Regions from separate parts of the Homo sapiens genome. Here region 1 is linked to region 2. The links come from fine-mapping of genetic effects on gene expression. A gene starts in region 2. The other region holds a variant in brackets. All regions are shown on one strand. Distances are from middle to middle. Region 1 overlaps TMC2 (transmembrane channel like 2). Region 2 holds the start of TMC2 (transmembrane channel like 2).

Evidence for each region. PIP is the estimated chance that this variant, and not a neighbour inherited with it, causes the effect.
Region 1: its variant is fine-mapped to the expression of TMC2 in lung (TOPMed, PIP above 0.99). The same link has a PIP of 0.9 or more in breast, esophagus mucosa, esophagus muscle, gastroesophageal junction, skeletal muscle and subcutaneous fat.

Annotation. Positions count from the first base shown.
Region 1 is chr20:2,615,873-2,632,261 of GRCh38, forward strand. TMC2 (transmembrane channel like 2) reads left to right here. Exons shown (of 20, transcript NM_080751.3): 15 at 265-332; 16 at 1,200-1,439; 17 at 8,399-8,524. LOC105372505 (a long non-coding RNA gene) reads right to left here. Exons shown (of 5, transcript XR_007067502.1): 3 at 3,330-3,427; 4 at 2,634-2,713. Among named protein-coding and RNA genes, the nearest start is that of NOP56, 29 kb to the right of the region's middle. The variant T/C (reference allele first, on the strand shown) is at 9,421.
Region 2 is chr20:2,527,322-2,543,710 of GRCh38, forward strand. TMC2 (transmembrane channel like 2) reads left to right here and starts at 9,252. Exons shown (of 20, transcript NM_080751.3): 1 at 9,252-9,334; 2 at 9,948-9,995. The coding sequence starts at 9,301. It overlaps LOC105372504 (a long non-coding RNA gene), which reads right to left and starts at 16,291. Exons shown (of 3, transcript XR_937204.3): 1 at 16,079-16,291; 2 at 14,617-14,803; 3 at 7,207-7,289.

The DNA of each region.
Region 1 (16,389 bases), 89 kb after region 2:
GATAGAAACTGTCATTTTTTTGTTTACTGAAATAGGCATTTTTAAAGTTTCAGCTTTGAGAATGTCAAATTTTTTGTTTAAAAGTTGAAAACATATTAAAGAAATAGAATGCTAAATCTAAGGTTCTTCTCTAGTTACCAGAGCAGGCTCTTTGGGATGGAATGGCCTTGGCTTGGCCAGTTGGTTGGTAGTAGGGTTTGGCTGAATTCACCAAACGTGCTTTTTTTTTTCTCTCTCTCTCTCGCTCCCTCCCTCCCTCTCTAGCCTTCATATGCTGAGTTTGATATTAGTGGAAATGTGCTGGGTTTGATCTTCAACCAAGGAATGATCTGGTGAGTTATCCATTTCATCTGGTGATCGCCTCATCCAAGGAGTCAAAAAACTGGAATCCCAGACTTTGCAACTTAACTAGTTGGAAGAGGCTAGATAAGTCCTCTTGCCTCTCTGAACTCCCCTCTTTCACATGAAAAATCAAGAGCGGGACTAGATGAGAAGCAGGACAGTTTCTGGCCCACCCATGTGCTACCATAGAAGTAGAGAGAAAGGGAGAGGGGTTGGTGGAGGAGAAAAGGAAAAGGAAGGAAGGCAGGAGAGAAGGAGAAGAGGGAAGAAAAAGGGAAGAAGGAAGAAAGACAAAGGAAAGGGAAAAGGAAGGAGTAAAGAAGAGGAGGAAAAGAGGAGGAAAGGAAAATAAAGAAGGAGGGAGGGAGAAAAGAAGGAAGAGAAGGTGGAAGGTAAATGAACTATGGAACTCCCTCTTCTGAAAAGGGAGTTCAAGGAGGTACATAACTTCAGCCAAAGACTTTCAAGGTGCCAAGGGCTCGCTGCAAGCCACTGTCCAATTCTCTCAATTGAAGGACTTCAAATACTCTTCTGAGCAGCAATGCTGTTTTATGGAAACCGAGGAGAAACAGGCAGGAGACCGTATAATTTGCTAGATGCCTGGGGGCGAGTCAGTGGTAAAATCTTGGCCAGAGCTTAAGCCAGGAATGCTCGGAGTGCCTCCCTCTCCTGAGGACTGCATGGTTCTGGCTTGATGATCGATATTCTGGTTAAATGGGAGGCCCCTTACCTGGGGACTTGCCAGGAAAGCAGCTCGGCCTCATGCCCCTAACCCATCCGTCCCATTTCCTTCTATCACCCTTCCCTCGCCTTCCCTGCTGTCCAGCCAACCAGGTGTTTGGTTTCTGCCATTCCAGGATGGGCTCCTTCTATGCTCCAGGCCTGGTGGGCATTAATGTGCTGCGCCTGCTGACCTCCATGTACTTCCAGTGCTGGGCGGTGATGAGCAGCAACGTACCCCATGAACGCGTGTTCAAAGCCTCCCGATCCAACAACTTCTACATGGGCCTCCTGCTGCTGGTGCTCTTCCTCAGCCTCCTGCCGGTGGCCTACACCATCATGTCCCTCCCACCCTCCTTTGACTGCGGGCCGTTCAGGTGCAGAGTCTCAGTTGCCCGGGAGCACCTCCCCTCCCGAGGCAGTCTGCTCAGAGGGCCTCGGCCCAGAATTCCAGTTCTGGTTTCATGCCAGCCTGTAAAAGGCCATGGAACTTTGGGTGAATCACCGATGCCATTTAAGAGGGTTTTCTGCCAGGATGGAAATGTTAGGTCGTTCTGTGTCTGCGCTGTTCATTTCAGTAGCCACCAGCCACCTGTGGCCGTTGAGTGCTTGAAATGAGGAACTGAGAAAATTAATTTCTCATGTATTTTTCTCATTTATTTATTAATTTTTAACTGATAGTTGTACATATTTGGGGGTACATGTGATATTTGGATACATGTATACAATATATAATGATCAAATCAGGGTAACTGGGATATCCATCACATCAAACATTTATTTTTTATTCTTTTTAGACAGAGTCTCACTCTGTCACCCAGGCTGGAGTGCAGTGGTGCCATCTCAGCTTACTGCAACCTCTGCCTGCCAGGTTCAAGCGATTCTCATGCCTCCACCTCCCAAGTAGCTGGGACTACAGGCATGCACCACAATGCCCAACTAATTTTTGTATTTTTAGTAGAGACGGGGTTTTGCCATGTTGCCCAGGCTGGCCTTGAACTCCTGGCCTCAAACAATCCACTTGCCTCGGCCTCCCAAAGTGTTATGATTACAGGCGTGAGCCACCGTGCCTGGCCTAAACATTTATCTTTTCTTTGTGTTGGGAACTTTGAAATTATACAATGAATTATTGTTAACTGTCATCTCCCTGCTGTGCTATGGAACACTGGGACTTCTTCCCTCTATCTAACTGTATATTTGTACCAGTTAACCAACCGTACTTCATCCCCACTCCTCTCTATCCTTCCCAACCTCTGATCACCTCATTCTACTCTCTACCTCCATGAGATCCACTTTTTTAGCTCCCACATGTGAGTAAGAAAATGCAATATTTGTCTTTCTGTGCCTGGCTTATTTCACTTAACATAATGACTTCCTGTTCCATCCATGTTGCTGCAAATGACAGGATTTCGTTCTTAATTTCAATTAAAATAACCACACATGGCTAATGGCTACCATATTCGACAGCACAGTTCTACCCTTTTAACACATGGATAACTTACTACCTGGGATTACTTTACCATAGGATAAGTAATGGTGGATATTCTGAGGATGAATTACCATACACTTACACGTGCCGTTTAAATGTGAAGCAGCTGCAGTGGACTCTTGACAGACCTCAACTGAGCTCTCTGCTCTCCAGAGCATTGGCCTGGGGGTTCAATACATAAGTCAAGCTAGTTGGGAGACTAGATATTGTATAAAAAGACAAATAATTATGTAAGGAGGTAGATCAAGAGATAATGTGCATCTACTGTTCTCTTTCCAAATGCCTGACCTTCTGAAAACAAAGCCCTCTGCCAACTCCGTAAAGAGAGGTTCTGTGGTTAAAGCAGTTTAGGACGTACTGCCCCTTCTGTCTGCCATTATCTCACTTAGAAATGCTCAATGCACACTCCTTTGTTAAAGGCTCTGAAGAATCATGCAATGAGGTAACACCTGTAAGCTAGTGTCTCCGTCCTTATTGACCACAGAACCCTTTCTGCATGGATCACTCATCCAGGGCTGGAAATAGGGTGAGGCAGGTGAGTGACGCCCTACACTGCACATGAGCAACCCTGAGGGCATTACTTCCTTAAATTGTGCACTCAGGGCCTCACCCGCCTCACTCTAGTCCCAACCCTGCCTGCCAATGAGGAGAAACCCTGTCCCGTAAAAGGGTCGTATATGCAAAACAGCCCCTAAATGCCCAAAGAGCCTAGAATCCAAAGGAGGAAGGAGACAAATGCAGTTTGTCGGCTTTGGGTGATTTATTAGGGGTAACTTACAGTCAGATGCATGGTCACAAGCAGCCGTGAGACAGGTAGATCTCCACACCTCAATCCCCCAGGCCCAGGGCTTCTATCTTGGGGAAAGTATGCGTGCTCTGGAAGGAATGTATAGGTGGCTCTGAACATCACAGCCTGTGATTTCTGCAGCAGCATCAAGGGTTGTTTTGGAGGAAACTTTATGTAGGAATAAGAGTTCCTACATAAAGAGTAATACATCTGCTAGTCATGTGGGAGGCACTCTCAGACTCAGGGTTAGTTAGAAGTTACAAGGCAGATTAGCATGTAAAATAAAGTCACTCATGTCCCGCACAAACACACTTTGAGAAATGCTGATCCGGTCTTTCTCAGTTCATAAAGGACTTTACTAGATAAAGGCCTGTGATGGTTGGAGCCCAGGGATGTTAGCAGGAGTGTTCCAGCAGGGTGTGATCTGGAAAACAGTGTTCACACAGAAGGAGGGGATCAGTCTAGAACAGAAGGAATGTGCTGAAGTGCAGATGGCCTAAGATTTAGCCAGGCTGAAAGGAGAACCGAATGGAAGAAGCCTCTGTTGGCTTCTTCCTAAGCAAGGTTTGGAGGGCTGGGCCCTGGGTGCAAATGCCAGCCCCCTTTTTCTCAGCTTCCCATCTGTCACTGGGTAGGAGGTCAGCAGGGACAATTATACTATGATAAGAACCATCTCCTACAGTTGTATGGAAAACTGAACTTATAAGAAAGGAACTTGGCTAGCCAGGCATGGTGGTACGTGCCTGTAGTCCCAGCTACTTGGGAGGCTGAGGTGGGAGGATTGCTTGATCCCAGGAGGTGGAAGTTGCAATAAGCCATGATTGCACCACTGCACTCCAGCCTGGGCAACATAGCAAGGCTCTGCTTCAAAAAAGAAAAAAAGAAAAGAGAAGAGAAGAAAAAAACAGAACTTGGGTATTTAGCTGAAGAGATTCCCAAGCAAAGTATTGAAGGTACAGCCTGGTTTCTTCATGCTGCTTATAGAAAATGTGCAAGGAAAGAGGTATGTTGAGTAAGTAACTGATAAACAAGAAAGTACCAGGATTTGATGATTCTGGAAATTCTCAGCCTTATCTAGATTGCAAAATATGCTAAAACTAGATTCACTGTCATGAGAATGTGCTGTAAAAAGAAAGCCAAGAGTGAGTCTGGATAACCTTTTGCTAGTGTTTCTGAAAGATCAAAAGGTCTGAATATCATTCACACAGAAAACTCTGACTAATCGTGTGACTAATGCATCGCCTCAACCATCACATCAGAAGTCAGGAATAGAAATAGGATTATCCAGAAAAGATCATGTGGGACTCTCTTCTTTAACAGAGTACATTCTCATGACATACATGAAAAACTCACACAGTTTTTGACAATATTATATCAGCGGAAACATTACCAACTTGGACTGAAAGAAACAGAAAGAAGACAAAATAAAGGCAGATCATTGGCCTCCCAGAATTCTGTGGCGGGAAACAGACTGATAAAATTTACTCAGCTGAGACATGTGCTATCCTTCAAGAAGAAGGAAGGGTGGAAGTGTTCTTCCAAGGGCAGAACTGTGAACCCACAAGGGCAAAGCTATGGGCACAGTAGGGCAGAGTCTGCAGCCCAGAGGATTATTCTCAGGACTTTAAAACTTAATGGAGCTTGGCTGATTGGATTTCAAAATTGCTTGGAACTGGTGATTCCTTTCTTCCTTCCATTTTCTCCCTTTTGGTAATGGAGTGTTTACAACTTTTATCCTATGCCTGTCCCACCATTTTATTTTTGAGAGTAAATAACTCATTTTCTAGTTCCTAGAATCTTGAGATGGGGATATCATCATGGATTAGCCAGGTGGGCCCTAAGTCACAAGTGTTCTTATAAGAAGGAGGGAGGCCGGGTGCAGTGGCTCACGCCTGTAATCCCACAACTTTGGGAGGCTGAGGCGGGCAGATCACGAGATCAGGAGTTCAAGACCAGCCTGGCCAACATGGTGAAACCCCGTTTCTACTAAAGATACAAAAAATTAGCCAGGTGTGGTGGTGCGTGCCTGTAATCCCAGCTACTCGGGAGGCTGAGGCAGGAGAATCGCTTGAACCCGGGAGGTGGAGGTTGCAGTGAGCCAAGATCATGCCACTACACTCCAGACTGGGCAACAGGGTGAGACTCCATCTCAACAACAACAAAAAAAAAAAAAAAGGAAGGAGAGGGAGGGAGATTTGACTACAGAAAAATAGAAGGTGATGTGACCATAGAAGCAGGCAGAGATTTAAAGATTCTGTGCTGTTGGTTTTGAACATGGAGAAACCCCATCTCTACTAAAAATACAAAAACTAGCCAGGCGTGGTGGCAAGTGCCTATAATTCCAGCTACTCGCAAGGCTGAGGCAGGAGAATCACTTGAACCCGGGAGGCAGAGGTTGCAGTGAGCCGAAATCATGCCACTGCACTCCAGACTGGGCAACGAGCAAGACTCTGTCTCAAAAAATAAAAAATAAAACCCCTAATGGAGCTTGGCTGATTGGATTTCAAAATTGCTTGAGGTTGGTGATTCTTTCTTCCTTCCATTTTCTCCTTTTTGGTATTGGAAAGTTTATAACTGTTATCCTATGCCTGCCCCAGGTTAGTTTCAACCCAGTGAATCCCTTTCAGACTTCTGGCCTCCAGAACTGTAAGATATTAAATTTGTATTGTTTTAAGCCACCAGCGTGACAAACAGCAGGCACTAGAATCTGATACACCATCTAATTCAACGACAAAATAATCTACATTCAACTGTCACATAAAAGCCTAACACGTAAACTTAACTTTTCTCATTTGTACATGGCGGGTATGCACTGGAAATAAAAATAATAATAATAATAAATGAAACATTGTCATACAGTGATGTGCCTGGCACTTGAAATGCCATCATGCTATAACTGCGTCATTGCAATTTGTGGTGTGCTGGGCAACAGTTGTAAGCAATGAGATGGCCACAAATGGTCTCTGACACAACTGCTCTTCCCTGTCATTATAGCACAAAAAATGAGTGAGCATGGCTGTGTTCCAATAATACTTTATTTACAGACACTAAAATTTTAATTTTATACTTCAATTTTTACATGTCACAAAATAGTATTCCTGTTTTGACTTGCTTTCAACTACTTAAAAATGTAAAAATGATTCTTAGCTCACAGACCATATGAAAACAGGTGACAGACTAGGCGCAGTGGCTCACACCTGTAATCCCAGTACTTTGGGAGGCCAAAGCAGGTGGATCACCTGAGGTCAGGAGTTCAAGACCAGCCTGGCCAACATGGCGAAACCCCGTCTCTACTAAAAATACAAAAATTAGCCGGGCGTAGTGGTGCCTGCCTGTAATCCACCAGGCATTGTGTGTAAACTCTGGAGGCTGAGACAGGAGAATTGCTTGAAACCCAGAGGCAGAGGTTGCAGTGAGCTGAGATTGCACCACTGCACTCCAGCCTGGACGACAGAGAGAGACTCTGTCTCAAAAAAAAAAGAAAGAAAGAAAAGAAAAGAAAGAAAAAGAAAACAGGTAACAAGCTGAATTTGTCCATGAGCCATTGTCGGTGAACTCCTCATCTATACTTTACACAGAAAATGTTTAGCTGCAAAATTTTGAAGGGCGCTTATAACTTAACAGCACTACACTCAATGTTTTATATCAATTCTCATCTATATCCTCTAAACAATCTTCTGAGATAAATACAATTATTATACTTAAAATACCATATTATACTATAGTATTATTATACTACATTATACAGATGGGGAAACTGGGGCAGAGAAATTTTCAATACCTTGCCCAAAGGTATTGAACTTCTGCAGATATTGAACATCCAATAGAACTTACTGTAATGATGAAAACATTCCATATCTGCATTTCTAACACAGCAGCTACTAATCATATGACTATTAAGCACTTGAAATGTGTAACTAAGAAACTGAATTTCAAATTTGACTTCATCTTAATTTTTATTTTTAATAGCCACATCAGACAGCACAGCTTTCGTGGGGAGAACCAGGGCATGATATGAATACAAGCAGAAAGAGAATAATTGTCAGGCCGGGCACAGTGGTTCACGCCTGTAATCCCAGCACTTTGGGAGGCTGAGGTGGGCGGATCATTTGAGGTCAGAAGTTTGAGAGCAGCCTGGCCAACATGGTGAAACACCATCTCTACTAAAAATACAAAAAATTAGGCAGGCGTGGTGGCGCTCACCTGTAATCCCAGTTACTTGAAAGGCTGAGGCAGGAGAATTGCTTGAATCCGGGGGTGGAGGTTGCAGTGAGCTGAAATTGTGCCACTGCACTCAAGCCTGGGTGTCAGAGTGAGACTCCATCAAAAAAAAAAAAAAGACAGAGAGAGAGAGAATAATTGTCCACGTGTCTCACCAGTGATAAATGGGGGATCAAGGATTTAAACCAGGAATTTCAAACCCCGTATTCCACCTCTTGGCACCAAAATTATCAACCAAGAGCCAGCAGCATCCAGGAGTCTCTGGGCCAGCATTTGTAGAAGTAAATCTGCATAATGGTTCTTAGGTATTTGAAGAAAATAAAAATTACAGTTGTGAACTGTCCAGGAGCCTGTCCTAGGTGATCCAATATCTCCTAGACTTAAAATCTGAAGGTTAATTCTAGGTATTTCTGAGAGACACTCAGGTTGTCCAGCACATCAGCTTCTGCAGAACTGTTTCCCAGGCCCAAAGGAAGCTCCATGTTGGCCTGGTAGCTACAAACACAGACAATTTCTCCAGTTAGAATACATGAGGAAAACCATTTTTTTCTGGCTGAGGAAGGTGTCAGACACAAAAGACCAGTGAAGGCTAAGAGGTTGTAAGTTACTTAGGATAGAAAGCCGGTGAGCCGTGTGCCGACCCAGCTGTCACCCTAGCCAGAATGGCAGCCCCTCAGGGGGAATTTTTTACTTGCAGTTCATTTGGAGCAGAGCTCTGGTTCTTCCAGGAAAGCAGTGGCAGGCAGCAGCCCTGGACCTGGGTAGGGGGGCCATGGACACAGCTGTGAATGCCACAGGCACATGGCAGCATGTTATATTGTGTCCTCTCCTTTTTCCAGTGGGAAAAACAGAATGTACGATGTCCTCCAAGAGACCATTGAAAACGATTTCCCAACCTTCCTGGGCAAGATCTTTGCTTTCCTCGCCAATCCAGGCCTGATCATCCCAGCCATCCTGCTGATGTTGTAAGTTAGCCAGGACCCATGGCTCCACCCCACGGAAACTTCTCCTTGAATTTGAGACTTCCTTGGCAGGTCCTTTTCATCTTGCCTTCTTAGTCTGCACTCCCCAGAAGCAGAATCCATGACAAGGATTCAAGTGTAAGTATTTTATTAGGGAGGGGGTGAGGACTTGAGACAAGGAAGGGAAAGGAAAATGCATGGTTATCACTGTGAGAATTCTGGGAGGCAGTGTGCCTCAGACTCAGCCCTCCCTAAGGGCAAAGGATCCGAGGCATTTATAGACCAGCTCCCAGCGTCATTCATGGGTAAAATGGCTTCAAGGGGTGTGAGTGAGGGGTCCAAGAGGGAAGGGAAGCTTCTGGTAACAGAGATGAGGGCACCAGCAAGTGCAAGTCTTTTGGAGCACACTGAAAATTTGGGTGAGCCCTGACAGTATCTGCAACAACTCCCACTAAAATGCTCACTAGAAATATCAAAGTCCTGTGGGCTCTGAGCCTATCAGGAAGCTGAACGGTGATTCGGCCTGATCCTGGCTGGGCCCACAGCACTACTCGATGGAGCAGCTTATACACTGGAACAAGCTGGTTCCTTCATCACTGTCCCCCTCAACAACCATTAGAGAACAAGTTCGAAAATCTCTGTATCCCCGGTGCCAGCCTAATGCCTAGAGCATAGCAGGCAAACAGTAAATGCTCAAGGAAAGAACTAGGGAAGAAAGGCAGGAAGCCAGAGTCTTGGATTGGAATTGTTGCCATCAAAAAATGTGCTAGTAAAAATGTTAGCATTTTTTCTTTATTTAAAAAAATCTTATTTTGGCATGCTTTTTTAAAAATTATGAAATATTCCCAGCATACAAATGAGTACAGACAACCATGTACACGATCACAAGATTCAACAGA[T/C]GTTAACATTTTGCAATATTTACTTCAGGTTTATCTTTCTTCGTAATAGAAATAAAACATTACAGATGCACTTCAAGCCCCACTCAATCCTTCTTTCTTCCTCCCTCCCCAAAGGTAACTATTATACAGACTAGATTTAATTATTTCCATGCATATTTTGTACTTTTTAATCACATGTGTGTATAGTACTGTTTCCGGAGTTTTAAACCTTTTCATGAATGACTCACATTACATGCTTTTCCTCAAACAACATTATGTTGGGGGATTTATCCATGCGGATACATGAGCACATGTTTGAAGGCTCTACTATGTTCCATCTCATGAATAAGCCACAGTTTATCCATTCCTCTGCATAGGGATAGTTAGGCTGTTTCCACTTTTCGGCTATTGCAAACTGCGCTCCAGCCAACATTTTGTATATATCTCCTTGCACAATTCTGAGAGTTGCTCTAAGGTAGACATCTAGAAGCAGAATTGTGGGTCATCAGCATGTGTTTCTTCAATCTTTTTAGATCTTACAGAATTGCTCTCCAAAGTGGTTGTATTCCCTTTGGACTGTTATTTATAAATTCCAACTCTCCGGTGAAATTCTCCAGCTTTCTATTTTCTTGAACATAGTGGTTATAATTACTTTTAAAATCCCAGTCTGATATTCCAATATCTGAACCACCTGGGTGTATTTTTGTTGTCATTTGTTTTCCTCTTGTTTATCCTCAGCCCTACTTTTATCATGGCATGTAATTTTTACTAGATGTCAGACATGTGGATGAAAAATTATAGAGGCTGTGAATAATGTTATCTTTCCCCAAAGGGATGGGTTTTTTTTCCTGAAGGGCAAATGGAATACTAGGAGATCACTTAATCCTGTCAAGACTTGATGTTTTAGCTATCTATTATTACATAAGAAACAACCCCCAAAACTGAAAAATAATATTTTATTAATGAATCTGCAATTTGGGTAGGACTTAGCAGGAATCATTCTTTTCCTCTCTACTCAACATCATCTGGGTCAGCTCAGCTGGAGGCTGGAGGGCCCACTTTCAAGATGGTCACTCACATGACTGGCCAGCTGGCACTGGAGGCCTCACTTCCTTCTCACAAGCTGCTTGGGCTTCCTCATAGTATGGTGGCTGAGTTTCAGGAGCAAGCATCCCAAGAGAATGCAGTGGATATACATGGCATCTTTACTTACTCCTGCCATACTCTATTGAAGCAATCACAAAGGGATACCCAGGTTCAAGAGAAAGAAATATAGACTTATCTTTTGATGAGGCAATGACAAGATTCTAGAAGCACATGTAAGACAGGAGTCATAGTATTGTGGCCATCTTTGGAAAATAGTTTGCTATTGCTAGCTTTGGGCTTTCTCAGGGCTGATTTATTTCAGTTTTGCCCTATTTCCAAGACACTGACCTTACTCCTACAATGTGATCCTTACTATTGAGCACAGTCTTTTAGGGGTCTCAACTGAAAGCCTACAGTGTTTACCAATTCCCTCCTGTGACAGTTACTACGGGACTGAACGAAGTAGGACGAACACAGAAATGAAGACAAAGAAAAAAAGGATTTGTTTTAAAGAACGGGTCAGGGGACTCCTTGCTTCTAGTGAGCAAAGGCAGCCCTGAGCTTCTGCAGCCCTGAGCTTCTACAGCCCTTCGTATTTATTGGGTAGAAAGAGCAGGGAGGAGGAGGTAACGATTGGTCAGCTGTTTGATTGATCACGGGTTCACATCATTGCTAACAGGCCTCAGATGTGCCTAACCACAAGAAACACTGTGCCTGGGGCGTGACTGCCCTCAGCATTCCTTCTGGGTGCCGACATAGTTGTCAGCTTGCCAACATCCTGCATTCATGAGAACAGCTTGCTGTTTACTCATATAGCCTCCAGTCGTATACTGAGTTGATCACGACCCTCATTCTTTTGGCCTCCACCACCCTCCACCTTGGCAGGGCTTAAAACCCATTCTCTCTTTTCCCAATTCTTCCGTCTTTGCTTATTCTTTTTCTCCAGTAGTACTGCTACAGCCACTGTGAAATCTCTGCTCTGCTCTTCAGCCTCTCTGGTGTCATTTTCTTCTGGGCTTCCTGAAGCAATTGAAGAATTGGTCAATCATTTGAGGGCAATTTGTACACAGAGTTTGGCTTATTTATCTGCAATTTGTTCTTCTCTGGGATTCTGCCCCTCAAGTCCCAAAGACTGTGGCAGTAATTAACTCTGACCTGCATCTTCTCCACATTGTAAGATTTCCACTTTCTGCTTGGACTCTGCTTCTGGGTCACAAATTGGAAAATACTCTCAGGGAGAAACCCTGGAGGAATGTGGAGCTCACCTCACATGCTTCCCTTCTCTCAAGCATCAAGTCCCTTTAGTCTGCCTGTCACTCTCCCATGTCTTAAACTACAGTTTTGTAAATTTTGCTCAGCATTTACAGTTGTTTTTCTCTGGAGAGCTGGACCAATACAAGTCCCTTAGTCAAGACCAGAAAAAGAAGTCTTTTCTTTCTTCATTTGATTTTCCACAGAGGCAGGCTCCCTAGCACCAAAACAACAACAAAAATAATCTGTGATCATTTTTATTAGAATTCAGAAAGAAGGCCGAGCATGGTGGCTCACACCTGTAATCCCAATACTTTGGGAGGCCGAGGTGGGCAGATCACCTGAGGTCAGGAGTTTGAGACCAGCCTGGCCGGCATGGTGAAACCCCATGTCTACTAAAAATACAAAAATAAGCCAGCTGTGGTGGTGTGTGCCTGTAATCCCAGCTACTTGAGAGACTGAGGTAGGAGAATTGCTTGAACCCAGGAGGCAGAGGTTGCAGTGAGCCAAGATCATGCCACTGCACTCCAGCCTGGGCAAAAGAGCGAGACTCTGTCTCAAAAAAAAAAAAAAAATCCAGAAAGAATTGGCACACCTATGTTGTTAAGTTTTCCAATCCAAGAATACTGTATTCCTTATCATTTTTTCATTTATGTCTCTCAATATTTTTAAGTTTTCTTCATAAATTTCATGCACATTTCTTATTAAATGTATTCCTCTGCATTTCTCTTTTTGTTATGATAAATTAGGATAGCTCTTTCATCATACTTTCTAACTAGTTTTTGTTTTTCTATGTAAATGTTATTTATTTTCTATATATAAATTTTGTATTCAGTCACTGATATAGTTAGGCTTTGTGCCCCCATCCACATTTCATCTTGAATTGTAATCCCCATAATCCCCACATTTCAAGGGCGGGGCCAAGTGGAGGTAATTGGTTCATGGAGGCAGTTCCCCCCGTGCCGTTCTTGTGATAGTGAGTGAGTTCTCACAAGATCTGATGGTTTTATAAGGGGCTCTTCCCACTTTGCTCGGCACTTCTCCTTCCCGCCACTTTGTGAAGAAGGTGCCTTGCTTCCCCTTCACCTTCCACCTGTAAGTTTCCTGAGGCCTCACCAGCCATGCTGAACAGTGAGTCAATTAAATCTCTTTCCTTTATAAATTACTCAGTCTTGGGTAGTTCTTTATAGCAGTATGAAAACAGGCTAATAAGGCCGGGCACAGTGGCTCATGCCTGTAATCCCAGCACTTTGGGAGGCCGAGGCGGGCAGATCACGAGGTCAGGAGATCGAGACCATCCTGGCTAACACGGTGAAACCCCGTCTCTACTAAAAACACAAAAAATTAGCCGGGCGTGGTGGCGGGCGCCTGTGGTCCCAGCTACTCGGGAGGCTGAGGCAGGAGAATGGCGTGAACCCGGGAGGCGGAGCTTGCAGTGAGCCGAGATCGCGCCACTGTACTCCAGCCTGGGCGACAGAGTGAGACTCCATCTCAAAAAAAAGAAAACAGGCTAATACAGTCACCCTATGAGTGTATTGTTTATCATATTTACTCAACCAAAGTTCTTGAATCTTCCAGGTCATTTTCTCATTTGTAAACAATGAAAATGTTATATTTTATTTAATTCTTAGATCTCTTTTTTTCTCTGTAGGATTAATTAGTACCTTCCATGGGAAAAACAAGTTAATTAATATTTGGTGATGAAATATATTTTTGTATTTTTCCTGCATTTACAGGGTGGGGAGTGCTTTTAATGTTTTCAGTTAAGCACAGTACTGCTTTTTTGGAGAGTTGAGATAAGTATATTCATGAAATAAGGAAGAAAACAACCAGGGAATGTAAGTCATTGTAACATAGGTATAAGAAATCAATAATTAGGAAAGTGGAGTAACTTTTCTAATTATTGATTTCTTACAGAAGTAAAAAAAAAAAAAAAAAAGTGACCTCAAAAGGTGGTGGTGAATTTAGGGCCATTACTAGCCCATATAGTACCTTGTGCAAATTTTTTAAAGGTGCCCACTCCTTCAGACGGAGGTAGGCCCATGCCAAGGGGCACATTTGACAAACAGAATATGGATAGATTTCAGCCAGCAGTCACCCCCTTAGTCAGGTGCCTTTTATGCAGTAAACAGCCTGTATAATGGCTATCTAAGCCAGAATCTTTTTCCTTTGGTGTAGACCAGGGGTCATCAAACTGTAGTCCACAAGCTAAATCCGGACCACACTTGATTTTGTTAAATAAAGTTTTATTGGAACATATTCATGCTCATTCATTTATTTATTATCTATGACTGTTTTTCACAGAAAAAGACAGAATTTACTTGTTGTGATAAGGAATGTATTGTCTAGAAAGACTAAAATATTTATTGCCTGGCCCTCTGCAGAAAAAGTTTGCTGATCCCTAATGCAGACAATAAGGAACCACTTTCAAATATGCTTTGACACTGAACTTAAAACACCTAATCAGTAAGACTTAAAAATAATGACAAATAATAAGTCCAAAAAATATTTAGAAGAAGAAGGAATTAGGATTGTAGAAGACAATAAATCTTGAACTTGAGCCTTGATAAATTCAAGGCTCAGGAAAAGGAGTCGATTGCATTGGATAGAACTTTTAGAGTTGTTCAAGTCTACTATTTTCTTGTTGACCTTCTAATTGTTTCTATTACTGAAAGTAAAGCATTGAATTTCCAGCTATTATTATTGGATTGTCCATTATCTCTCCCTTAAATTCTGTTTTTGCTTCGTATGTTTTAAGGCTGTGTTGTTAGGTGCATATATGTTTTTACTTATTACATTTTCTTGATGAAATGACCCTTTTACAATTACAAAATAATCCTATTTGTCTCTAACAATTTTTGTCTTAATGTGTTTCCCATCCTTTTACTTTCAATCTACTATTACCTTAAAAATCTGAAGTGTGCATTTTTTGGCTGGGTGTGGTGGCTCATGCTGGTAATACCAGCACTTTGGGAGGCTGAGGCAGGAAGATTGCTTGAGCCCAGGAGTTTGATATCAGCCTGGGCAACATGGCAAGACCCATCTCTACAAAAACTTTAAAAATTAACTGAGTGTGGTGGCACATGCCTGTAGTTCCAGCTACTTGGGAGGCGACAAAGGTGGAGGATTGCTTGAACTGAAAAGGTTGAGGCTGCAGTGAACCATGTTTGTACCACTGCATTCCACCCTGGGTGACAGACTGAGACCTTCTCTCTAAATAAATAAATGAAATAAAATATAGTGTGCTTCTTTGGAAAAGCATATAGCTGAAGCATAGTGTTTATCCATTCTGTCAATCTGTGCTTTTTATATGGAGTGTTTGATTCATTTACATTTAATTACCAATAAGTTAACATTTATGTCTGCTGTTTTCTATATGTCTTATGTATTTTTGTTATTTTATTCCTCTATTACTGCTTTCTTTTGGGTTAAATATTTTAGTACATAATTTTAGTTCCCACGTCATTTCTCTAACTATATTTTGTTTTAGTTATTTTCTCAGTGATTGCCCTGGAGATTATAATTAATATAACAAACTACTTTGAATTAATACCAACTTAATTATAATAGTATACAAAAACCTTGTCCCTGTACAACTCCATTCCCTCCACTCTCCTTCAGGTTGTTTCTGCCACACAAATTACATCTTTATACATTTTATGCCAACTGAATAAGACAGGAGAAAAAAGAGCTACAAAGACTACATTGATACTAGCTTTCATGTTAACCCATGTAGTTACCTTTACTAGTGCTCTTTATTTCTTCATGTAGATTCAAGTTACTGTCTAGTGTCCTTTCGTTTTAACCTAAAGAGCTCCCTCTAGCATTTCTTACAGAGTAGGTCTGCTAGTGATTACTTCTCTTGGTTTTTATCTGGGAATGACTTAATTTCTCCTTCATTCTTGAAGAACAGTTTTGCTGGATTTAGAATTTTTGGTTGATAGTCTTTCTCTTTCAATCTTTCAAATATGTCATCCCACTGCCATTTGGCCTCCATGGTTTATATGAAAAAACAATTGACTGTTAATCTTTCTGAGGCTTTCTTGTATATGATTATTTGTTTCTCTCTTTCTGGATTCTCTCTTTGACTATGGCTGTTTTTTTTTTCAATTTGCTATGATATGTCTAGGACTAGATCTCTTTGAGTTTATCCTGCATGGAATTTGTTGAGCTTCCTGTGTAAATTAATATTTTTTCATCATATTTGGGGATGAAATCTGATTAAAAATAGCCATTATTTATTCAAATATTCTTTCTGACCCTTTCTGTCTTTCCTCTCCTCCTCAGATTCCCATTAGGCATGTGTTGATACATTTGCTGTTGTCCCATAGGCTGTGTTATTTTACCTCATTCTTTTTTCTTTCTGTTCCTCAGACTGGATAATCTCAACTGATCTATTTTCAAGTTCATTGATTCTTTTTTTTTTTTTTCGAGATGGTGTCTCACTCTGTCACCCAGGCTAGAGTGCAGTGGCATGATCTCAGCTCACTGCAGCCTCCACCTCCCAGGTTCCAGCGATTCTCCTGCCTCAGCCTGTCGAGTAGCTGGGATTACCGGCATGTGCCACCACACCTAGCTAATTTGTGTATTTTTAGTAGAGATGGGTTTCACTATGTTGGCCAGGCTGGTTCTTTCTTCTGTCATCTCAGATAT
Region 2 (16,389 bases):
GTGAGGCCCACCCATCAGCAAGGCCTGCCCACATGCAGAATGCTTCCACATAGCTTTTCAGCATCTCACAATGAAATATGAGCAGATACCCAAGTGCCCCCAAACAATAAGACAAAGATTAGAAGAGTGATGACTTAAAAGAGTTTGCCCAAGTGACAGGGAGACCAATGTTGTCCCTGACACATGCATCTCAAAGTTGAAGTCTCCCTGCATCCATTCCCACTCCCTTTGCCAAGGTCAAAGCTCACTGAGCAGTGGTCCAACCACAGGACTGCTGGTTCCCAAGCAATCTTAAAAAAGGGGGACTCGCCGGCTCAGTGGAGGTCTTCTCCACTCCAAACTGTATGCATGAATACGCTGACATTCTAGGATATCAGATGAGCTGAATCTTGCTAGGGGGAGTGAGCTCTAGAAACAAATAGTATGTAGAATTCAAAACGTCCAAGGAGAGGGGTTCAGGAGGTATTTCCTATGGCAAAAGTGGCTGAGAAACTTAAAGCAATTAAGTTGTCTCTGCTGGGGACTTTGCTCTCCTGGGCTCTGCTACCACAACACCAGGTTATCTCCAAAGGGTTGGTGATGAGCGATCGCACATCATAGCCTGGCTTAGTGCTGCTCTGTGGAATAGAAAGGAAGCCCTAGAGCCCAGTACAATAGAGAGAATACAGAAGAGGCTGGAGATGGGGCAGCTGACAAGGCGAGGGCCACATCTCTACCACCATGTGGCCATACCTTCGTGAGGCAGTGAAGTAAGGAACTTTGCAGCAGGTGCATTATGGAGCAGAAGAAAGGGGCAGGCTCATTCGTGCCTGGCAAAAGTGGGGCCCAGACGCACTGCAGGCCTAGGCACTGAGGCTGGGAGTAAAGTGATATGAGCAGGAATCCCACAGAGCGCTCTCCTAACTCTTCAGGGCTTTGGGGTGTTCTGGTTATGGTCATATTATCTCACTCAGTCCCCAAAGGGCTCTTGCAGGAGTTGTAGCAGAATTACCTCCACCCAGCAGATGAAAAAACGGAGGCAGAGAAAGCTTCAATAACTTGCTTATGGTAGTGTGGGGTGAAGAGGGGCTTGTCACCCATCTGATTTCAGCTGACACCTAAAAATGGGGTGTCCGATTTCAGCCGACATCTGAAAATGGGGGTTGACTTTGTTTAACACTTTTGCTTTGAGGAGCATTCCAGTTGTCCTTATCCCGTATGGGCAGAAGGAACAGAGCCCCTGAATCTAGGCTCCCTACTTTCTTTCCCTGACTCTGCCTCCTGGGGTGGTGGGGGAGAAGCAGACGAATAAAAAAACTATGACCCATAGTCACCAGCTGGCTGCAGTTCTCCTTGTGGGTTGTGTAGACCGTGCCTCTTAGTCTGTCTGGCTTATATCTGGCAGTAATCCTCCCCTGCCTTTGGAGTAATGGGGGGCCCTCAGGTCCCAGATACCTGGATGGGTCCAACTTCCTGCCTAAGAGTCTGAGATGGCAGAGACAACCTCAGCAGTTTCTCGAAAACAGGACCCTTCTGCCCCACCTTCAGTGCTGATCAAGAAAGGTCAAGGAACCAAGACTCTGACCAAACAAACTTAGAAGCACTGTTCATATTACACAACCCAAAGCTTTCAGGGACACACCGCTACCGTCCAGAATCCTATGGCCTCTCTCCCACCCTGTGCCACAAACTACCCCAGCACTGAGCTCATTGGTGTGGGTTCGTCGGTGGAGGGCAGCATCCTTGAGATAGCGCCAGCTCACGTTATCCAGCTAGGGTGTTAGCTGGCGTAACTGGATCCTCTCCATTGTGCCGGTTTACAACATTCTGTGAGCAACACTGGATGTTTTGTAAGCAGATACCCACAGCTAATTATATATATATATGTATATACTTCTAATTGGAGAGATAAATTAACAAGATGGCCCAAGAAGCTTCCCCAAATAAGGGCTTTGGGGACAAAAGCACCCCTGGATTTGAACGCCCTGTGACTTTTGGTGGAGACTGCACATGTTATTTTTGTTGTTGTCGTATTGGGTCCTGGGGTTTCATTTTCTCTGAGCAAGCCACATCCATGAAAGAGAATTAGCACAGAGTTCACCCTCCTCAGCTCCAGCAATAGGGACATTCACTATCCTGATAACATTAGGGCACAACACTCTGATATTATTAATTTTCAGAATAATGTTTGAGTTGCATGTCCAATAAATGTTACTCAAATAGTATTAGCTAAAGTATTGTGTTAAGAAGAATAAAGAAAAAGAAAAGGAATATTTCACAAAAAGTTAAAAACACATTTTTGTGTCACTTTTTTTTTTTCTTAAAAGTTGCAAATGTGTGAAATCAAGAGGTTTCCAGTTACGGACATGTCAAGACCACCATGAAGAAAAGGCAAATCTTGATGAGGCAAAAACCAAGGGCAGAGCAGAGAGGGAGTCTTCCCAGAGGCTGGAGTGCTCTGCTCAGACACCACACCCCACCTGGCAGTTTGCTAGGGTTATCGCTCTGCTAGGAAACATCATTCCAAGTCATATTGTAAAATGCTGGGTGGGCAGTGTGCCCAGGGGTCTGCCACATGTCCTGAAGTCAGCAGTCTTCATAGTTGTGCCTCAGGCAGGGGGGATAGTGGGAGCAAAGACAAAGAGAAGTTCTAGTACCTCGAATGAGAGCAAGTCACATCAGTGGGTAGGAATAGCTGCACTGAAAGAGAGAGGCAGAGGGGGCTGGAGGGTGTTGGAGCTCTCCGGGGCCTTGGATGGCACATTAGAGAGTCTGGGTTTTACCCCTAGGCCATGGAGTCCCAGCGAAGGGTTTTAAGTAGAGGGGAGATGAAGTCAGACCTCTGCTCTGGGGGCTGCCTTAGCTGCCATGCAAGAGAGAAACTGAAGGGCAGGGCCAGCAGCCCGGTGCCCAGGTAGGAGGCAAACACGGGGACCTTTGGAAAGGAGGATATGGTGTGGTCCAGGTTTTTCCCAAGAGGTCAGAAGAGTGTAGGGAATAAAAGCCTGGGCTCTGGAGTAAGAACAGTCAACAGGGCTGAATCCTGTCTCCAGGGACTGCTGGGACACATCACATCTAAGCCTCCATTTTTTCATCTGTAAAGAAAGATAAGACAATCTGCCTCAAATGGCTGTTGTGATGATTCAATAAGTCATTTAAAGGGGTTGGCAAGTTCCTGGCAGAAAGGCAGTGACAGGTAACTCTCAGCTGTGGCTGTCTTGAAGGGTGGGCTTCCTGAGTGTGCAGCCTGCGCGTGGCTGCTCATGGCTCCACACTCAGAAGCGCCCTGCACTTGGTCTAATACTGTGCTGAAAAAGTGAAAGTGAAATTCTTTTTTTTTTTTTGAGACGGAGTTTCGCTCTGTCGCCCAGGCTGGAGTGCAATGGCGTGATCTTGGCTTACTGCAACCTCCATCTCCCGGGTTCAAGGGATTCTCCTGCCTCAGCCTCCCGAGTAGCTAGGATTACAGGCACATCCACCCGGCTAATTTTTGTATTTTTAGTAGAGATGGGGTTTCACCATCTTGGCCAGGCTGGTCTCGAACTCTTGACCTTTAGTGATCCACCTGCCTCGGCCTCCCAAAGTGCTGGGATGAGAGGCGTGAGCCACCGCGTCCAGCCTATAGTGAAATTCTTAAGAATTTTATCTTTTGGGCTGGACATGGTGGTTCACGCCTGTCATCCCAACACTTTGGGAGGCTGAGGCAGGAGTACTGCATAAGCTAAAGAGTTCACGATCAGCCTGGGCAACACGGTGAGACCCATCTCTAAAAAAAAAAAGTTAATTGGGCCAGGTGTGGTGGCTCACGCCTGTAATCACATCACTTTGGGAAGCCGACGTGGGCAGATCATTAGAGGCCAGGAGTTCGAGACTAGCCTGGCCAACATGGTGAAACCCCATCTCTACTAAAAATACAAAAATTAGCCAGGCATGGTGGCACACGCCTGTAATCCCAGCTACCTGGGAGGCTGAGGCAAGAGAATTGCTTGAACCCGGGAGGCAGAAGTTGCAGTGAGCCGAGATCATGCCACTGAATTCCAGCCTGGGTGACAGAGTGAGACTCTATCTCAAAAATAAAAAATAATTTTAAAAAATTAAAAATTAAGGCTGGGCTTAGTGGCTCACACCTGTAATCCTATCACTTTGGGAGGCCAAGGTGGATGGATCACTTGAGGTCAGGAGTTTGAGACCAGCCTGATCAACATGGTGAAACCCCATCTCTATTAAAAATACAAAATTAGCCAGGCATGGTGGCACACTCCTGTAATCCTAGCTACTTAGGAGGCTGAGGCAAGAGAATCACTTGAACCTGGGAGGCAGAGGTTGCAGTGAGCCAGGATCACGCCACTGCACTCCAGTCTGGGTGACAGAGCAAAACTCTGTTTCAAAAACAACAACAAAAAAAAAAAATTAGCTGGGCATAGTGGTGCTTTTTTCCGGCCCCAGCTACTTGGGAGGCTGAAGCAGGAGGATGATTTGAGTCCAGGATGTTGAGGCTGCTGTGAACCATGTTCATGCCATTGCATTATAGCCTGAGCCTGTGAAGAAGAAGAAGGAAGAAGGAAGAAGGAGAAGGAGGAGGAGGAGAGAAGGAGAAGGAGGAGGGGGGGAAGTCTGATGGGACAATGGGGTGCGTACATGAGCAGAGGAGATAGGAACATATGCCGCCCTATTTGCGTATCCCATATATGATGCCCCATGAGCACATAATTCCAGTGGGCCCACGACGCATGGGAGTTTAGCAAGACTCAAAGCCAGTACAAGGCAGGGGTGTAATATCTGTGGTTAAATATGTAGGAATGCTTCCAGCCCAGAGGGGCTACACTTCCCATTTAATCCAGAACTTGCTTCAAACACTAAAAGAAGGCAGTGGTGTTCTAAGAAGCATGACAACTAAGGGACCCTATCCTATTCTTTTTCATTCAAGTTACTTCCCTGGATTAGCCAACCACGTAGGCTGACAATAATGACCCAGAAGAAAAGGAAAAGATAGAGAAACCCATAATTCCTTTTTTTTCCCAGTTCTTTTTCACTCATCAGTAAGCCAAAGGCAGGAAACATTGGTAGAATATGCACATACCAAGACGTGAAGTAAAACCATTGAGTTGGCTTTGTGCAGCATTTCTACAGTCCTGATAAGCCTGAAATCCTGCACATATACAAGCTACAAAATACAAATTGTGTCATTTCAGTGATTCCACATAGGAGTTAAGTACTCTTATACTTGCACTGAAACCTGTTATTGCTCGATATACAGATGAACAGTGGGATCCATGCAAATAATTTAAAATTTTGAGTTTTCTCAGAATGACGTTAAATAGTAGAAAGAGAAAGGCTTTGTATTTTAGTATCTTTAACTGTTCATTTTTCTTGCTTTTTGGACAAGGGACCCCACATTTTCATTTTCCACTGGGCCCTGCAAATTATGTAGGCCGCTCTGCTGCTTTTAATATTAACCCTCGGGCGGGGGGTGAGTGAAGACTGGGGAAAAGGCAGTCGAATCCTAATAGTCATTGGAGGCTAGAAGGACAGACATGTTATAGAATCCTTGCATTTGGTTCAGAGATACACCTTGGATTCTATGTCCAAGCAGATGGGCCAGCCTAGGGGTGCTCAGGCCTGTCCCACTCTCCTCTTGGACCTTGTCTCCCCCTTGGTCTAAGTGAGCATCAGCATCCCTGCTCCCACCTCCCCATGCCCTTCATCCCTACCAGCCTAGCTCCCTCAGTTCCCTCCCCAGCCTATGCAGGAGGACGAGCAGCTGCCTTTCTAGAAAAGGCAACATTAGGCCTGGTTCCCTAACAGCAGAGCCTGAGACGGGGCAGGCGGGGGTGGAGGGTGCTCTCAGGAGAAGAGGCAAGAAGCAGGACAGGGCAGGAGAAGGGGATGAGCAGAGACCCCACTGGAGTCCAGCTTCTGGCTCATCTCACAGGAAGCTCTGGGATGTGAATGACATCAATAAGTTGTTCCCATTTTTGACAGAGGCCGGGCTGTCATACCTCTTTGTTCATCCATCTGTGGCTGTAGGCTAATCCGGGGATGGTGATGGGATTACCTCAGGGTTCAGCAGCCCCTGCTCGGCCAAAGGCAATTCTCCTCCGTTGAAGGGGTCCGCTATGTGCCTTAGCCCTGGAGGATGGGTGCACTTGCTCTGAGAGGGAATCTGGGCAGATCACTGGCAGTGTCCACTACGGAATCTAACCCTGAACAACAAGGAAACCACAGCCCAGAAGTGACCTTCACAAGAAGGCACTTGGGGATTTAATGGTCAGCCCAAGTCAAAGCCACATATCCCAGCTTCCAGACCCAGACTCAATTGATCTCTTGTCACAGACCTGCCCAGGAGACACAAGGGCTCCGCGTTTTTTCATTTTCTTCATCTGACACATGGGAGTGACAACACTGTCTCACCGGGCTGTTGTGAGAAATAGAGAGGTTGGGGCAAGAGTGCCCCAGGCAGGACCTAGCACAGAGCAGTGTGCAACACACATGCCACGAGGATAATAGTTTTAAGACATCACTGTCGTTTTCTTTCTCACACTCTCTGATGTGAGACCTGCTCCCTCTTGCCTGAATGTGTATTCATCTCAGGAAGCATTGGAATTGATCTAGGTGGCGTGCAAAGAAAAAAGCAAAATACTCTGTGTTCAGTATCTGACTTCCAAACTTGGATTTTTGAATTCCTTAGAAATAATTGTGGAAAGCAGGGTTTGTTGTGAGAGAGAAGAAATCTGCCAATTCCTAGATCACTCCTTCAGACACCAAGGGCTAAACCCAGCCACCAGACAGCAAAAACACATCAGCCCCTGAGGACAAGGGTCTCTGTTTCATTTGCTGATGAATCCCCAGAGCCGAGAACTGACTCTGACCCCAGTGGGTGCTCATTTTTATCTGTGAGGAGAAAAGTGGAGTTATCGACTGTGTGGACAGTCAGGTACAAGGGAATTTGATAGTCCTATCTGGAGGGAATTTCTCTCCGGAGATGAAGGTGTTGTAGAAAGCCTTTCTCCTCTGGCAACAGAGAACAACAAGAGCAGGGTAAAGGCAGGAGGCGGAGCTTGCAGTGAGCCGAGATCGCGCCACTGCACTCCAGCCTGGGCGACAGAGCCAGACGCTGTCTCAAAAAAAAAAAAAAAAAAAAAAAAGAGCAGGGTAAAGGGCTGCTGGGGGTCCTCACTCATCAGGGGAGAGCGCTTGGGGCACCCCCAGCAGAAACCTTACTCACCAGTCCTCTGGGCCACGCTGTCCTGTGGCTGCACAGCTGCCCGTGCTGCTTCTCACATGGACCGGGGTCCTGCACTGGCATGGCCCTGGTGGGGAGAGGGATTTGCGGCTGCAGTCCTGCAGTATGGATGCCAGAGAATGCAACTGAGATCCTCCCACTGCCCTCATGCCCCGGGGACTGGGGCGGCCCTGCAGGAACCAGTTGGGTCGGAGATCAAGGTGTGGGACAAAGAGAAAAGCTTCAAAGCTTGAGATGAACCGTTGCACGTGCATTTTAGAGGTAGCTCCTTTGCCCCTTCCCTCGCCAAGCTTGCATGAGGACAGGCACTCCTACTCCTGACCCCTGAGAAAGTACATGGGCATGATCAGAGGCTAGGTCTGTCCTTGACACCCACAGGAGACTTGCCCTGGGGAAGGCTTTTTATTCTGTTGTGTCATAGAATCCTTTGGCATCCTGGTAAGGTCCGTAGACCCCTTTTTATATTTTTTTTTATTTTTGAGACAGAGTCTCACTCTATCACCCAGGGAGTGCAGTGGTGCAATCTCAGCTCACTGCAACCTCCACCTCCTGGGTCAAGCAATTCTGCCTCAGCCTCCTGAGTAGCTGGGACTACAGACACATCCCACCACGCCCGGCTAATTTTTGCATTTTTAGTAGAGATGGGGTTTCACCATGTTGGCCAGACTGGTCCGGAACTCCCAACCCTAGGTGATCCGTCTGCCTTGGCCTCCCAAAATTCTGGGATTACAGGCGTGAACCACCACGCCCAGCCACAGACCGCTTTTCAGAACATAGACATTAAATCCATAAAATAAAACACTAGGATTACAAAGGAGACCAATGATCCTGAAATAGGCATCAAAATCACTTTAAATATCTTTCATATAATGACAATATATGCTTCCTAATTAAATAACAAGATTTCATGGCAGGTCTCTAACTATCATAATTTTGAAGTTGTGATAACATGTAAGATATTTTGAGACATCCCCAGTGGTTTAATTGGGAAAAAAAATAACTGTGACTTTTGCTGAGACAAAAATCACATCTTTGCTTACATTCATGATTGAGGGAAATGCTAAATCGCAGTTAAGGCTAGGAAAAGTGAAAGTGTAGTATTTTCTCCATCACTATTCACAAACCCACAGAATTCCATCCACAGCTCTGGGGGTTCCAGGGACTCCAGATTAAGAACTCCACACTCTGAGACCTTATGACTGCCTTCCAGAGGGTCCCTCTGACACTTTAGTGATGGTTTTCAAAGCAGCCAAATCTGTGCCTCCCTGAAGCCAGGGAGGAAAAGCTGCTGAGGGAGGGGGCGGGGGCTGAGCGGGAACATTCATCTGTGTGGGCTCAGGACGCCTGCAGCAGGATCCACAGTGCAGGCTCCCAGGGCCTGGCACAGACTGACTGATTCCAACGCCCAGTGCCACTCCTGGGAGTATGCATTTTATTTTTAAAAATTTATTATTATTATTTTTCTTTTTGTGGAGATGGGGTCTCACTACGTTGCACAGGCTGGTCTTGAGCTCTTGGGCTCAAGCAATCCTCCTGCCTCTGCCTTCCTAAGTGCTGAGATTACAGGTGTGAACCACCACATGCCAGAATCTGCATTTTAAACAGAAGCCCAAGTAATAACTTAAACAAACATTCTAGAATTTCCCTGGTGCTTTGTCCCAATCAGGGACTCAAGATAGTGGGAGAGGGCCTGGGATGCTCCTCACACCTCCTCTGGCTAGAGTGCCAGCGGCATCATTGCCAGGAGATAAGCCTGCAGCTCCTGGCCCCTCCAGGGCCCCTCATGTATAACTGATGCCTGAAACATGAGGCCATGCTGCCTCTTTGCAGGGAAACCTGAGAAGAGGAGTGTGTGGCCGGATTGATGGGCCGGGAACTCGTCGCCTTCCTTCACCCGTCTCTCTCCCCCAAACTTCACCCACCTCCACATTCAATCTCAAACCAAGAAGCCCCGCCTGCTGTCAGGTCTAGGAAGGGAGGCCAGCCACCATGAGGGCAGGAAAGCAGCCCAGGCTGAAGGCGTGCATACAGGAGCACGCTGCGTGAGCCTGTGCAGGACCCCAGCAGTGCTGCTGACCATGAGCCACCAGGTAAAGGGCCTGAAAGAGGAAGGTGAGTCCACGTCCTGATCCTGCGGGGCCCGCCCACAGGGTTCCTGGGCAGCAGCAGGGGATGGGGGAAGCACATATGGTGTTCAGAGGCATAGGGAGGAGCTGGGTTTGAGTCCAGGGCCTGTCCCCTGTGCGCTGAGCGACCTCGGCTGGTTATTCAACCTCTCTGATCCTCACGCATGAGATGGGGGTAGTCATCACCTCCTTGCAGGGCTACTGGAAGGATTCAAGACAACCTGTGCACAGCACCTGTGTTCAGGCCAGCACTGGAGACTGTCACGGCCGATGCATGCTCCTCAGAGCCTGCTGGGGCGTCTCAGCCACCTATTGTCTCGGTTAGGGTTGCCTGTTCCGAGCAAGCCCCTCAGCAGATTTCTATCTGTCTCTGTCTCTGTGCAGGGCAGGGGGTGGGGGATGTTCTGACCTCATGACTGACAGTATCAGACAAATGTGACAGGCAGGGGACTCTATAATTTGCTGAGTAAAATCATTGGAGCTGGGTCCCAGTTTGAGGCAGCCACAAATCAGCTGAGGGGTCCCACAGTGACCGGGGGTCTGCAGGGAGGGGGACTCACCAGAGGCCAGCCATTTGTCAGCAATCCTGTCTCTTACAGCACGAGGCGGAGTGAAAGGGCGGGTGAAGAGCGGCTCTCCACACACAGGTGAGATGGGGTGGTGGGGTCTCTGGGGAGCCTGCAGTGCCTGGGTGCCCTCTGCTTAGCCCAACAGTCCAGCCACCCATCCAACATTCTCCTTCATCTCCTTCCCTCTCATTCAACACCCTGCATGGAGCCTTCCTGGGAGGCAAGGTGTTTAACATGGGAGGGGGCAGAGTACCACTCAGAGAAGGTGCTGCTCAGCCCTCGGTGTCAGGGGAGACTCCCAGGGTTAGTGACACTCTGAGCTGAGCCTTGGGAAGCAGTGAACATTCACCAGACAGAGGGCAGGGAAGCTCGGTGCAGGCTTCTGGCGGGTGGTGTGGCCAGATTCACATCCAGGCCCCCGGACTCTAGGAGGAACACTCTTAACCTCCAAAAAGTAGTAGGCATAATGGGTGCTCCATCACCTTCCCACTGGGAATGTGACCACAGCTCTCCCGTGAGCCGGTGAGGGAGCCAACTTGCTCCAGGAGAAGTGGGAGAGCCCAAGGAAGCCATAGGCGGGAGAGAAAACCCTTGGTTGAGACTGAGGGTTCAGGGGAGAGGGGCAGAAGCCACACTCACAGGCTGGGCATCTTCATGTCACAAAATATTATGGATGCGATGCTGTTTTCTCCCCCTTCACGTCCCAGGCAGGGCTGGGTCCTGCGCCCCACACTAGTAGGCAAGAAACCAGAATCTTGGGGAGTGATGGGGTTCTGGGGGGTTGGAAGAGATCTCCTTCCTCCCCCATTCTGGGAGGGAGGGCCCTTTCCACTCCCTCCTGTGGGAGGGCCCTGTCCTGGCCCCACTCTGGCCAGTAGGGAGCTGGCCCCAGGAGCCACTTCATCTGCCCTTTCCGCTCCTGTGACCCGCTGCTGTCTGGTTGTCGGGAGCCTGAGCTTCAGTGAGGCCGCTGTGTTACAAGGGGAGAGACCCAGGAGCAGGAGGCAAGGAAGAGCTGGGCAGAGGCTGGCAGGGGGTGCAGCCATGGCATCTCAACAGCCCTTCCTGGCCCCTATCCCGGAACTTGCCTCAGCCACTGTCCCTTCTTCCTACCCCACCTGCCTGCCTCATCCACTCTTTATCTCAATCCAAAGATGAAGGAGCAAATGTGAGAAAGTTCTATGCCCCAGGGTGGCCAGACGAGAAACCTTCCTCCCGGGGGTCGGGCCACGGTGCTCCCGTAGTGACCACTGCCTGTAGGATGCTCAGGCTGGTTCTCCACACCCCACTCCCCTCGTAGTCATCCAGATGCCGTCCCTTCCGCACCCAGCCTGGCCTCCCTCTGCCTCTGCTGCAGGGCTGTGCTGTGCGGGACTCCCCTGTGAGCAGTAGTCCTTAGTAGGACTGAAATGGAAGACCATTTTGCCTACAACACAAACCCTTTCCTACTGAAATATTCCACGTTGCCGCTGCCGTTTTCCCTTTCCCATAGAACACAGGAAATTGGTCAGAATTTTCACTTCACAGATCTAAGTGGTGAAGGGGTGCAGTAAAGTTAAACATTGGGAATATATTGAATTAACTGAAACCCAGCCCCATGAAGGTTTCCATTTTAAATCTCCTCTGGAGTCACCTGCGACGGGACCTGATATTCTCATCCTTCCCTTTATACTCTACCAGGAGGGAATAAAAGTTTAAGAATACAATGTTCTTTTCTCAGAATAGCTACAGTTTGTTACTGTGTTCCTTGAAAAGAAGGATGAGAACTCTCCCTCCTCCTGTATCATTTGGTAAGTGCACTGAACTGTTGAGATCACGGGACTGGAGGGCTGCCGCAGCCTCTCCTCGGCCTGTGTTTTGCACTGTGAATTCTCTGACCGAGTCAGGTGCTACATAGGAGGAGGCCTGTTACATTTAGGAGAGCGTGTGCTGGGCTTGGAGGCCTTCCTAGCAAGACAGCTGCCTTTCCAGTTCCTAAATTATGCATTATGTGGAGTCTGTTGAAAACTGATTATGAAAGAGAAAAAAACAGCTTATTTTCTGTGTTGAAGAGGTCTGGGGAAGATTGAAGGGCAAATTCTGGCTTGTTTTCCACATTCCATGTGAATTTCGTTCAGTTGGAGAACTAAATTACAGCAGGAATTACAGCTCAGAAAAAAAATTGTAACACCAAATTATATCTACAGTGCTGGGAAGTATGCTTGGTACAGTTCATTACCACAATGAAAACCATTGTATTAGCTGACTGAGGACACAGAGAGAGCTCAGAAGAGGATGCAAACAATGACGTTCCTATTCAGTCCTTTCAAGCAACATAGAGCTGATCTTTATGGGACCCCAGGGAACCCTTCTCCATGATCCCTTGCCTTGATCTCTGCTTCTCTGCCCTTTCTGAGCACTGAACTCAGTCCTAGAGCTCTCTTAGGGGTCATGGCTGTGATAATATTTGTTTTGCTCCGTCCCTTTTGCAACAGGGGGCTACTGCCTTCCAGAGCATTGCGCTGGAGCATTTGTAAGACAAATCATACCTCACTGGCTAACACTGACTAGCTTCCTACCCTGGATAAATTATGCAAAAATAGTCTTTCTTTACGTTGTCTTATCAAAGACTATTTTTCCACAGGGAGTGAGAAGAAGAAAGAGGTTGGGGCAGGAGTGGGCTAAGGAAACCTGCTCTATGATAAATACAGGACAGGTTCTCTTAGCTCACTCCCGCAAATAGCACACAAGACTATTCTTTTCTTTTCTTTTCTTTTTTTTTTTTTTTTTTGAGATGGAGTCTTGCTCTGTTGCCCAGGCTAGAGTACAGTGATGTGATCTCAGCTCACTGCAACCTCTGCCTCCCAAGTTCAAGTGATTCTCCTGCCTCAGCCTCCCAGGTAGCTGGGATTACAGGTGCCTGCCACCACGCCCAGCTAATTTTTTGTATTTTTAGTAGAGACCGGGTTTCACCATCTTGGCCAGGCTGGTCTCAAACTCATACCTCGTGATCCACCCGCCTCAGCCTCCCAAAGTGCTGGGATTACAGGTGTGAGCCTCCGTGCCTGGCCGCAAGACTTTTCAATGCACCTATGCCAGTTATCTCATCAGTCCTGGCAGAAACCTCAGCATTTAAAACCGAGTCTCAAAGACATGGACATGGCCGGGCACAGTGGCTCATGACTGTAATCCCAGCACTTTGGGAGGCTGAGGTGGGGAGATCACTTAAGGTCAATAGTTCAAGACTAGCCTGGTCAACATGGTGAAACCCTGTCTCTACTAAAAATACAAAAATTAGCCAGGCTTGGTGGTGCATGCCTGTAGTCCTAGCTACTTGGGAGGCAGAGGTGAGAGAATCGCTTGAACCTGGGAGGCGGAGGTTGCAGTGAGCCTAGATGGTGCCATTGCACTCCAGCCTGGGCGGCAGAGAGGGACTCTCAAAAAAAAAAAAAAAAAGACATGGAGATTATTAATGATGGCTTCAGACCCATGTTTGGTGCCTCTTTTTGCCTTTAAAATAAGTGAAGCAATCACAGCCAGTATGCTCACAAGACCTTCCTTGTAGCAGCTGCAGAGCAGTGTCACCCTCCCCACATCACCTTCTTCCATGTTGCTAGTGTGACCCTTTGATGTAGACCTTGCCCCAGCAAACATGCTCCATTATCACACCCTTACCCTCCAGATTTCAACCCAGCTCCCTGTGGGCGTGTACCCCTCTCCTCCTGCCTCCCACACCAGAACACACCCGGGACGCAGCTCTGCCTTGGACGCCTATGCCCCAGACTCCCTGGCATTTCTGCTGGGGCCCCTCAATCCCCTGTTTCCTCTGCCTGGAATCCTCCTAACTTGCTACCACAATCACCCCCTCCATTTCTCTACCCACTTCTTCTCTTGCAAACTCCTGTTCATCCTTCAAGATTCAGAGTAGCCCCTAAGTATGTATTAAAGACTTCATGGTAATTATTTTTAATTGAGCTGTAAAATATTCCACATAGTAGATAAATCACAGGTTAATTCATTATTCTATTACTGAATATTTAGGTTATTTCCCATTTTTATAATAGAAATAATGTTGCATTGAAGATTCTTGGGCTTGGGTTGACTCCTACAGGTGGAATTAACAGATCAGAAAGTATTTTTAGGCTGGGCATGGTGGCTTACGCCTGTAATCCCAGCATTTTGGGAGGCCGAGGCAGGCGGATTAATTAAGGTCAGGAGTTTGAGACCAGCCTGGCCAACATGGCAAAACCCCTTCTCTGCTAAAAATACAATAATTAGGCAGGTGTGGTGGCACACACCTGTAATCCCAGCTGCTCGGGAGGCTGAGGCACAAGAATCTCTTGAATCTGGGAGGTTGAGGTTGCAGTGAGCCCAGATTGCACCACTGCCCTCCAGACTGGGCGACAGAGCAAGACTCTGTCTCAAAACCAAAAAAAAAAAAAGAAAGAAAGAAAAAAAAGAAAAGAAAAAAGAAAGTATTTTAAAGCTCTTGTTACATGTTGCCAAACTGCATAAAGAGTTGCTTTACAATTTATATTGCGACCAGTAATAAATATGCATTTTAACAAGTCTCATTAGTCCTGGATAAAAAATTTTAAAAACGTAATACTATAAACAAGACAGGAAATCCCATTATTGACTTATTTTAAATTTCCTTTGATAACTAGTAAAACTGCATTTTCCGCCGTTTCCTAATTGCATTTCCCCATTAGTAACTTACCTGTTCATAAGTTTTGCTTAACGGTCTTTGTGTCCTCCCCCATATTGATATGTGAGTTCTTTCCATTAGTCTCATGTTTGATTAAAAAATTTTCTTATTTGAAAAAAACTTCAGAGTAAATGTTGGAGAGGAGAATTTTTTTCCTCTACCTTCCTAGGTTCAGTGACTACAGGCTCTGTAAATCAAACTGACAAAAGACAGATCAACAAGAGGGGAAAAAAGGATTGAATTACATATGTACAAATGAGAGTTCACAAAGAAGATGACTCAAGGAGGTGGTTAGAATTTGGGGCTTATATACTATCTTAGAGGTATATATCATCTTAAAGGGTGATAGAGTGTGGAGAAGAAGCTTGACAAAGGAAAAGCGTTTTGGGGCTTCTGGGTAAGTTATGGAAGGTGACTAGGAAACGTGTGGTAAATAAGTGTTATTCAGTAAGGTTTGTTAAGCAGGTAAGAGTCTTCTCAGGTGCTAAGAGTTGTCTCTGGAGTAGTTATCTTCCAAGTATAGGAGAGGGAGACCCCTTCCAAATGGAAATATATGTCCTGCTTTTAGTCCAAAAGGGCAGAGGAGCGACATATATCTAATTGCCTTCAGCTTGAAATAATCTTTATGCCGAAGTGGCATATTTTGGGATGGCGTCTTCTAGTCTCCTTCATAAACATCAGTTCTTTGTGAAGCATTTCCAACAATCCCAGCCATAATTTATCACTCCCTTTTTCTTTCTATATTTTTACAGTCTTTTCTCTTTAGTCCACAATTTTTTTTTTTTTTTGACAGAGTCTCGCTCTGTCACCCAGGCTGGAGTCAGTGGCACATCTTGGCTCACTGCAACCTCCGCCTCCCGGGTTCAAGCAATTCTCCTGTCTCAGCCTCCCGAGTAGCTGGGACTACAGGCGAGCACTACCACGCTTGGCTAATTTTTATATTTTTAGTATTTTATACTTAGTATATTATATTTAGTAATATACTTAGTATTTAGTATTTTGTGTTTTTCTTTTTAAAACAAAATACAAGGCCAGGCATGGTGGCACACACCTGTAATCCCAGCACTTTGGGAGGCCAAGGTGGGCGAATCACTTGAGGTCAGGAGTTTGAGACCAGCCTGGCCAACATGGTGAAACCCTGTCTCTACTAAAAATACAAAAATTAGTCAGGCAAGGTGGCATACACCTGTAATCCCAGCTACTCAGGAGGCTGAGGCAGGAGAACTGCTTGAACCTGGGAGGTAGAGGCTGCAGTGAGCCAAGATCTTACCACTGCACTCCAGCCTGGGTGACAGAGTGAGACTCTGTCTCAAAAATAAAATAAAATAAAAACAAAACACATTTATCTAAGTTATTGTCCAAAGCTGGCTCCCTAACACCCCACAACCTGTTGATAAGACAAAACCGATCTATTGCTTATAGCAGGCAAAGCTTTGGCAGTATCTTACAGAGGGGAAGGAAGGCCGGAACTTACTGAGAATTGGAAATTTGATTGAAGGCAGGTCTTTCAAAGTGAGAGCTGGAATGAGACTGGGTGAGAATCACAACATAATAGTCCACAATAAACAGCATGGCCAGGATTTTGAGGTGAGGCATTCAAAGAATCTTAGAGCCCAAATTGAAGAATTGACAGGTCTTTGGGAAAATCCTGTAATGAACAATCAACATTTGCCTGGGTAGGAGATGCCTAGAAAAATAAAGACATGCTCATGAAGCAGAGGCGTAGCACAAAGTCATCTTAATACAGACACTAAGGTATAGCTGGGCTCTCTGTGTCCAGACTCA